Homo sapiens: one gene and its partners. The protein of the gene in region 2 interacts with the protein of the main gene of each other region in a biochemical or structural test. Each region holds a gene or a part of one and is shown on either strand. Other genes may lie near its edges.

The links.
Region 1: the proteins of SMAD4 (region 2) and HNF4A form a complex in vitro, tested with the Homo sapiens proteins (one study listed by BioGRID).
Region 3: the proteins of SMAD4 (region 2) and PIAS4 form a complex in vitro, tested with the Homo sapiens proteins (one study listed by BioGRID).

What each region holds. Positions count from the first base shown.
Region 1 is NC_000020.11:44,428,586-44,431,063, forward strand, and holds part of HNF4A (hepatocyte nuclear factor 4-alpha), read left to right. Parts: intron 1-937; coding exon 938-1,080; 3' UTR 1,081-2,478. UniProt on the Homo sapiens protein: Transcriptional regulator which controls the expression of hepatic genes during the transition of endodermal cells to hepatic progenitor cells, facilitating the recruitment of RNA pol II to the promoters of target genes. Activates the transcription of CYP2C38.
Region 2 is NC_000018.10:51,061,129-51,064,783, reverse strand, and holds part of SMAD4 (mothers against decapentaplegic homolog 4), read right to left. Parts: intron 1-3,655. UniProt on the Homo sapiens protein: In muscle physiology, plays a central role in the balance between atrophy and hypertrophy. When recruited by MSTN, promotes atrophy response via phosphorylated SMAD2/4.
Region 3 is NC_000019.10:4,017,693-4,021,347, reverse strand, and holds part of PIAS4 (E3 SUMO-protein ligase PIAS4), read right to left. Parts: intron 1-3,655.

The DNA of each region.
Region 1 (2,478 bases), on a different chromosome or scaffold from region 2:
ACAGTTTTCTGGGTTCCAGGGTAGGGAATAAAGGGCAAGATTGTCCATTTGTTGAGGCTGTTTATTCAGTAAGGTGACTGACAGCCTTTACTGAATGAAGCCATTGTTGGGATGAGGCAATCCACTGGATGAGGTAACCCATTGGGTGAAGATGTTCTTGGGTGAGAATTCCATTAGTTGACATTGTCCATTAAGTAAAAGTGGTCATTGAAGTAAGGCTGCACAGTTGGGTAAGGCTATCCATTAGACAATTAGATGAGACTACCCATTGGGTCAGGATGTCTGCTGGGCTAGACCATCCTCTGAAACCTCCAAAGTATAAACTTGTCATTGGGCAAAGCTCTTCAAAGGATAAGATTATCAATGGGATGAAGTGATCCACTGAGATAAGATGATATTTTACTGACATTGTTCTCAGGGAAAGTTTTCCATTGAACAAAGATGGCCAATTGGGTCAAATTTGCTCTCCAAACCTGCCATGAGAGTGAGGCCAATTAGTTTCTATTACTCATCTCCTAAATATCCAAGAAATGGTATTTTTTGAGCCAGCTGGTCCGGGGTTTCATCAACTGCTGCTCCTTCTCCCAGGAAAGACTATCCCTGTCACCCATCCCATTGCCGCTGGGGACAGCCAGGCCTGGGCCTTGGTTTGGGAGAAGCAGTCCAAGTCTGCATATCAAATAAATGATGGAGGAGATGGGTGGTAGGACCTTCCAGACCTCATAAAACTTAGGCTTTATGATCTGGGACTCACAGAAGGTTGAGCAATAAAAGACCTTAGGGATTATCTGGTTTAATTAATTCTCTCATTTTATAGAGGAAGAAATTAAGTCAAGGTGGGGCAGGGTGGGAGGGGAGAACTTTCCCGGGCCTCTTCATTTACTCCCACAAAGGCTGGAATTTTGAGCAGCCCCTGTCTGTCTGTTTGTCCTTCCAGCCACCCCTGAGACCCCACAGCCCTCACCGCCAGGTGGCTCAGGGTCTGAGCCCTATAAGCTCCTGCCGGGAGCCGTCGCCACAATCGTCAAGCCCCTCTCTGCCATCCCCCAGCCGACCATCACCAAGCAGGAAGTTATCTAGCAAGCCGCTGGGGCTTGGGGGCTCCACTGGCTCCCCCCAGCCCCCTAAGAGAGCACCTGGTGATCACGTGGTCACGGCAAAGGAAGACGTGATGCCAGGACCAGTCCCAGAGCAGGAATGGGAAGGATGAAGGGCCCGAGAACATGGCCTAAGGGCCACATCCCACTGCCACCCTTGACGCCCTGCTCTGGATAACAAGACTTTGACTTGGGGAGACCTCTACTGCCTTGGACAACTTTTCTCATGTTGAAGCCACTGCCTTCACCTTCACCTTCATCCATGTCCAACCCCCGACTTCATCCCAAAGGACAGCCGCCTGGAGATGACTTGAGGCCTTACTTAAACCCAGCTCCCTTCTTCCCTAGCCTGGTGCTTCTCCTCTCCTAGCCCCTGTCATGGTGTCCAGACAGAGCCCTGTGAGGCTGGGTCCAATTGTGGCACTTGGGGCACCTTGCTCCTCCTTCTGCTGCTGCCCCCACCTCTGCTGCCTCCCTCTGCTGTCACCTTGCTCAGCCATCCCGTCTTCTCCAACACCACCTCTCCAGAGGCCAAGGAGGCCTTGGAAACGATTCCCCCAGTCATTCTGGGAACATGTTGTAAGCACTGACTGGGACCAGGCACCAGGCAGGGTCTAGAAGGCTGTGGTGAGGGAAGACGCCTTTCTCCTCCAACCCAACCTCATCCTCCTTCTTCAGGGACTTGGGTGGGTACTTGGGTGAGGATCCCTGAAGGCCTTCAACCCGAGAAAACAAACCCAGGTTGGCGACTGCAACAGGAACTTGGAGTGGAGAGGAAAAGCATCAGAAAGAGGCAGACCATCCACCAGGCCTTTGAGAAAGGGTAGAATTCTGGCTGGTAGAGCAGGTGAGATGGGACATTCCAAAGAACAGCCTGAGCCAAGGCCTAGTGGTAGTAAGAATCTAGCAAGAATTGAGGAAGAATGGTGTGGGAGAGGGATGATGAAGAGAGAGAGGGCCTGCTGGAGAGCATAGGGTCTGGAACACCAGGCTGAGGTCCTGATCAGCTTCAAGGAGTATGCAGGGAGCTGGGCTTCCAGAAAATGAACACAGCAGTTCTGCAGAGGACGGGAGGCTGGAAGCTGGGAGGTCAGGTGGGGTGGATGATATAATGCGGGTGAGAGTAATGAGGCTTGGGGCTGGAGAGGACAAGATGGGTAAACCCTCACATCAGAGTGACATCCAGGAGGAATAAGCTCCCAGGGCCTGTCTCAAGCTCTTCCTTACTCCCAGGCACTGTCTTAAGGCATCTGACATGCATCATCTCATTTAATCCTCCCTTCCTCCCTATTAACCTAGAGATTGTTTTTGTTTTTTATTCTCCTCCTCCCTCCCCGCCCTCACCCGCCCCACTCCCTCCTAACCTAGAGATTGTTACAGA
Region 2 (3,655 bases):
ACCTATGCCATAGCAAAAGGTATTTTTAGTGAAGTCAGGTCATGTTAACTACCACAATTTTAACTTTGGAGATGTATTTAGTGTACTCATTTGAACAATAATATATAATTTTAAATCACTGGGAAAAAAGAGGTGCTACTCTGGTTTACAAAGACAACTGATCAAGTATTTCTAATTTTTATTTGTAAACAACAATTATTACATCAAGCCCAAATACATAAAAATTATTTGGCTTTCCTGTTTTAACTCATTTAACAGATATCTACAGAGTATCTAGGGATCTTTCTAGGCACTGCATACACAGTAGAAAACAAAACAGCTACAGTCCCTGTTCTCACAGAGGTGCAGGGGCAGACAAATAAGCAAACAAATGAAATAACTCAGATAACAATGAACACTGTGAAGAAAATAAAACAGGGTATGGAACAGCAGATGATTGGGAAGAACACTTCAGACTGGATGGTAGGGGACATCCCATCTGAAAAGATGGGACCTGAATAACCTTTTATCTATGTGAAGACTGAACAGATTTCAAAGAGGAAGCGAAAGCAAAGACCCCAGGGTGGAAATAGGTTCGACATATTTAAAAGAAAGATTTATCTGTATCTCAATAAGCTGTTTATGAACTTTAAACTAGAATTTGAAGCAATAAAACTTTCAACAATCTTACTTTCAACAAAGTTACTTAGAATGACAAAAAAGAAACCCAGATCTTACGGAAAAAAAAAAAATAACCTAAAATGAAGTATGATTGATGCTTAAAATTTTTTTAAAAGAAAACAACTTGTAAAAGCTATGTACCCTAATTACTTTTCAAAATGCTGCCAAGCAATAAAATACTTTCCAATGCAATGAGGAGTTATCAAAACAGATCACATGAAGATTGGATAATTCAAAAACTTAAAAACTCAAATGTTTTGCCATGTCACTCTAATGAACTTGTCACAAAGATAAATATTTGTTTACATATATTTCATTATGCTTAGAACATAAAAACCAGTGATACACTAAGTGTCTTCACTGAGTGTCTTCTTAAAAAGCCAGTTTTGAAGTATTTATGAAATTATTTTCAGCCGGGCATGGTGGCTCATGCCTATAATCCCAGCACTTTGGGAGGCCAAGATGGGCAGATCACTTGAGCCCAGGAGGTCAAGGCCAGCCTGGGCAACATGGTGAAACCGCGTCTCTACGAAAAATAGAAAAATTGGCTGGGCGTGGTTGTGTCCACCTGTAGTCCCAGCTACACGGGAGGCTGAGATGGGAGAATCACCTAAGTCTGGGAGGTCAGGGCTGCAGTGGGCCATGAGAGTGCCACTGCACTCCAGCCCAGGCCACAGAGTGAGACCCCGTCTCAAAAATTTAAAAAAATATATATATATTGTCTATAGAAAATGTAATGTGAAGGTATCACATTATGCTATGGACAAGAAGCTTCAGCAAACAACTGATAGGTACACTGGTTAAACCAAAACTACAGAGATTGTCTAAGACAACAATTACCCAATGTTTTGGTGGCCAAAAAAAACACAACAAAAAACAGTAACAACACTTAAAAGTGGTCTTTACACAATCAGTCCAAATGTTAAATTGTTTTAAACAAGTATTTATAAAGCTAGGTAAAAAGAAAATGAGGGCCAGGCACGGTAGATCACGCCTGTAATCCCAGCACTTTGGGAGGCCGAGGCGGGCAGATCAAGAGGTCAGGAGTTCGAGACCAGCCTGACCAACATAGTGAAACCCCGTCTCTACTAAAAATACAAAAATTAGCCGGGCGTGGTGGCGGGCGCCTATAGTCCCAGCTACTTGGGAGGCTGAGGCAGAATGGTGTGAACCCGGGAGGCAGAGGTTGCAGTGAGCCAAGTCGCGCCACTGCACTCCAGCCTGGGTGACAGAGCGAGACTCCGTCTCAAAAAAAAAAAAAAAAAAAAAAAACAAGTAAAGCCAGATTACTAGACTGTTTAGGGATGTATTCATCACTTTAAAAGGGCCAGGCATGGTGGCTCATGCCTGTAATCCCAGCATTTTGGGAGCCGATGGGGCAGAGATCACTTGAGGCCAAGAGTTCAAGACCAGCCTGGATAACATGGTGAAACCCTATCTCTACTAACAATACAAAAATTAGCCAGGCATGGTGGCGGGTGCCTATAATCCCAGCTACTCGGGAGGCTGAGGCAGGAGAATGGCTTGAACCTGGAGGTGGAGGTTGCAGTGAGCCGAATTGCATGACTGCACTCTAGCCTGGGTGACAGAACAAGAGTTCATCTCAAAATAAATAAATAAAAATTTAAAAAATAAATAAAAGAGCAAAAAAAAAGTGATATCCATAAAAAGCAGGACAGTAGCTACCTCTGGGGAGAAGGAAAGAGGTTTTGACAGAGACAAAATTCATGGGGTAGGAGGGTTTCTGGGATGCCATAATGTTTTAGTTCTCAATCTGTGTAGTGGTTACATGAGTATTGGTTTTAGTGATGTTAGACTATATACTTACTTGTGTTACATACTTTTCTGTATATTACATTTCTCAAAAAAAGAAAGTTTATGAAAAGGCTAGACCCCTTGACCTACAAAAATGTTTAAAATCACAACACACAATGTAACACAGAAAATCCGTTACAGAAGATAATAAATATATATCGTTAAAAGAATGCTTCTGCCCCACTAATATCACCTTTTCCCTAACCAGAACAAGTATTTGCCTCTTAAATCAGCAAAAAGTTTATTAAACTATGACATCTACTGCTAGCCAGCACAGTAACCCTGGTTCTCACACTCTGGTGTCACTGTAATATGGCCTTTTGATCTAGAAATTCTACAAATTTCTTAAACTAAAATATGAGAAAAGTTATAAACACAAAGATGTTCCCTTCTATTTTTTTAAACAGCTAGAAGAAAAATTAAACCAACATAATCAATAACAGAACATTTACACAAAGAAAATTATGTAGACCTATTTAAGAATTTAAGACCCTTTGAATTAATCATTATGGGCGCTGTGTTTATGTTTTAAAAACCTTTACTGGAAATATATACTAAGATATTTACATATAAAACTAATATAGGATTTGCTTCAAAATAATATAGAATGAAGAAAGAGAGTGAGTATGAATGAAACAAGATTGGTCATTACTTGATAATGGCTGAAACTGAGGAATGAGTACAATGGGGGAACTTCCTGTATTATTCCGGTATGCTTAAAATTCTTTATGCTTGACTTATACACAGTGGAGTACTATTCAGCCATAAAAAAAATGCGATTCAGTCACTTGAGACAACATGGATAGAACTGGAGGTATTATGTTAAGTGAAAGAACCCAGGCAAAGAAAGACAAACATCACATGTTCTTATCTGTGGGATCTAAAAATCAAAACAATTGAACCCATAGAGACAGAGAGTAGAAGGATGGTTACCAGAGGCTGGGAAAGGTAGTGGGGGATTGGGGGAAGGTGAGGATGGTTAATAGTACAAAAAGTAGTTAGAATGAATAAGGTCTAATATTTTACAGCACAACAGGGTGACTGTAGCCAATAATTTAATTGTACACTTTAAAATAACTAACAGAGTATAGATTGTAACACAAAAGATAAATGCTTGAAGGGATGTATACCCCATCTTCCATGATGTGATTATCATGCATTATATGCCTGTATCAAAACA
Region 3 (3,655 bases), on a different chromosome or scaffold from region 2:
TGGTAACCCCATCTCTACTAAAAATACAAAAATTAGCCAGGCATGGTGACACACGCCTCTAATCCCAGCTACTCGGGAGGCTGAGGAGAATCGCTTAAACCCAGAAGGCGGAGGTTGCAGTGAGCCGAGATTGTGTAACTGCACTCCAGCCTGGGTGACAGAGTGAGGCTCTGTATCAATAATATAAAATGAGGTAAAATAAAATAAAATACCTCTCTACACACCCACTAGCATGGCTAAAATGAAAGGACTGGCAACTCTAAGAGATGGCAAAGGTGTAGAGCAATCAGAACTCTCTGCTGGTGGGGTTATAAGACAGTACCATCACTCTGGGAAACTACCCTTATAAAGGTAAGCACAGACCTACCCTATCACCCAGGAATCAGGAATCCCACTCCAAAGTATTTTCCCTCAATACATGGAAACATGCGTTCAAAGAAACTTGCAGGCTGGGCACAGCGGCTCATGCCTGTAACCCCAACCCTTCAGGAGGCCAAGGTGGGAGGATCGCTGTAGCACAGGAGTTGGAGCCCAGCCCAGGCAACACAGTGAGACCTTGTCTCTAAAAAAAGTTTTTAAATAAGCCTGAGCCAGGTGTGCTGGTGTGCAGCTGTCATTCCCGCTACTCAGGAGGCTGAGGTGAGAGGACTGCTTGGGCTCAGAAGTTCGAGACCAGCCTGGGCAACATAGCAAGACTGTGTCTACATTAAAAAATATATTTAGATACAAAGCAAAAACGCTGAGCAGCGTGCACGTCCTGCTATCACTTGTGTAATGAAAATGGAGAGAAGGCATCTGAGTAAACACCTATTTGTTTATAAGTGTAAAAAATATCGGAAGAGCGTGGGGGAGCGAGAATCTGGCCACAATGGCAGCCTTGCAGTGGCCGGGAGACGAGACAACGAGATGACAGGCAAGCCCTTTAGAACAGGGATGGCGAACTGCCCCTGGTAAAGGCTGGAGCTCATCAGCTTCGCAGGCTATGTCTGTGCTCCCAGGTGCTCCCAGGACGGCAGTGCACACAGTGGTGTGGCCTGCACCCACGACAGGGCCTTTACAAGAACCGGAGCCATGGGATCGCACCTCAACTACCAGCACTGTCTTGGAACTTTCTCAATTAAAACCCACGAGAAGCCGGGTGCAGTGGCTCACGCCTGTAATCCCAGCACTTTGGGAGGCCGAGGCAGTCGGATCATGAGGTCAGGAGATAGAGACCATCCTGGCTAACATGGTGAAACCCCGTCTCTACTAAAAATACAAAAAATTAGCCGGGCGTGGTGGCAGGCGCCTGTGGTCCCAGCTACTCGGGAGGCTGAGGCAGGAGAATGGCGTGAACCTGGGAGGCGGAGCTTGCAGTGAGCTGAGATCCTGCCGCTGCACTCCAGCCCGGGCGACAGCGAGACTCCATTTCAAAAAAAAAAAAAAGAAAAAAGCCAGACTCCCTGGGCTCGGCTCCCAGCCCTGCCAGGGCCTCTGTGGCCTCAGCCTGCACGTCCCGCCCATGTTGACCTGTTTCTTCGGGGACCGGTGCCGGGTCTGTGGCTGGCCCTCAGGAAGAGGGGGCTGCCACAGCCGGTTCCCGTTTATATGCTCAGGGCACAGCCAGTCTCTGCAGAGGTGATGGGCTGTGGAGTCCCGGCTGGGCCCTTGAGGAAGGCCGCCTAATTGGGAGGGGGGCACACAGGCCACCTGCAGACGCGCCCAGGTCTGCCCTGAGTGCCAGGGGAGCAATGGTTCAGGGGCAGGGAGGCTGCACGGGAGCCTACACCTGAGCTGGGCCTTGAGCTTCCAGGCTGGGTCGGAGGTGAAAACACAGACACCCCACCCCTCAGTGTCTCAGAAGGAGGTAGGGGAGAAGGGTGGGTCCCCAGCAGGCAGCAAGGGAGCCACCCAGCTGGCCAGGGATTGTTGCCAGCCCATGCCTGGGGCAGACAGGGCCCAGTCATTGAAGAACAAGACTCTGGGGTCCCTGCCCTGGGAGGGCTCCTCCCTCTGGGGGAGACCGGGCTGTGCTTCTCTGCTGGGGGCCTGGGAGGTGCCCTGTGCTCTCACTGCTGTGCCACTGGCCCCGGGCCGCTGACGGTTCCCCCCAAACACCCGGCCCCCCTATGCTGGGGAAGGGGCTGTGGGGTCTCCCTCAAACCTGCCCTTCTGCCCTCGGGGTCAGCTGTTTGGGGCCAGAAACCCAGGTGGCATCCATGAAGCCCCCGTCTCTGCTGTCCTGCAAACATCCACTCCCTCAGCCAGTCCTGTCAGCTCTGTTTTCAAATCCCGCCCGGTGCAGACGACTGCCCCCAGCTCTGCCGGTCTCAGCAGCCAGAGCCCGCCCCCTGGGATGGCTCCGCAGGAGACCCCTGACCCTCAGTACCCCTGCTCAGGGCCACACACACCCCGGCGCACACACGGCCACCACCCTGGCCTCCTGCTTGGGCCCCACCAGCCATGCTGCATCAGGGCCTCCGCACCTGCCATTCCCTCTTCTGGAACCTTCCTCCCCCGACCAGCCTCATGGCCCTATATTTGTCTTTGTACAAATGTCACCAGAAGGAAAGCCTTCGCTGAGCACCCCATTTAAAAACCGCACCCCCCGCCACCTCACTTTTCTCCAAACCTTCTCCTCCTAAGGAGCGACTCAGTTTCCCTACATCACTCTGCTGCTCCTTCTTGTTGGGCCACTGAAGCATGAAGTTCCCCAAGGGGGAGATGGTTTCGTGGGCTGCCCAGCATCCAAGGCCACGGGACCAAGGCAAGGGCACCACTGAACCAGATGCACCTTTGGGGCCAGGTGCAAGATCAGGTGACCACGGGGGCCCTGCCAGGCAGAGCCGGTTCTGGGGTGAGGTGCTCAGCCAGGCCCTCCGGCCCGGGCACGAAAAGCAGCCCCTGGGCCCGATCCGAGAGCCCAACAAGAAGGGCCCAGCCGTTGGCTCCACCCAAGGCTGCCAGGGAGCCTCACGAGATGCTGCTGACGATGAATATTTAACGCTGTGAGCAGATGCTCACAGTATGGGGGGTGGTTATAAAATAGCAGCCAGGACACAGCCACACATTCCTACAATCACACATGCAAAGGGAGAAGGCGGCAAGCACCGGCCCGGTGTACCGAGGCGGCCCACTCGGGCAGCAGGGCGCCGGCCGGACTGCTCTGCTGTTGACTCCAGTTTTCTAGGACAAGCGCATAATTGTACAAGTTTAAATAGAAATGAAACACAGGGAGTTTTTAAAAGGCTGACTGGGGCCGGGCCTGGTGGCTCACGCCTATAATCCCAGCACTTTGGGAGGCCGAGGCAGGTGGATCACTTGAGGTTAGGAATTCAAGACAAGCCTGGTCAACATGACGAAACCCCGTCTCCATTAAAAATACAAAAAATGAGACTGGGCGCAGTGGCTCACGCCTGTAACCCCAGCACTTTGGGAGGCCAAGGTAGGTGGATCACCTGAAGTCAGGAGTTCAAGACTAGCCTGGTCAAGATGGTGAAACCTCGTCTCTACTAAAAGTACATAAAATTAGCTGGGTGTGGTGGTGCGTGCCTGTAATCTCAGTTACTTGGGAGGCTGAGGCAGGAGAATCGCTTGAAGCCAGGAGGCTGTAGTAAGCCAAGATCGCGCCACTGCACTCCAGCACGGGCGACAGTCAGACTCCATCTCAAAAAAA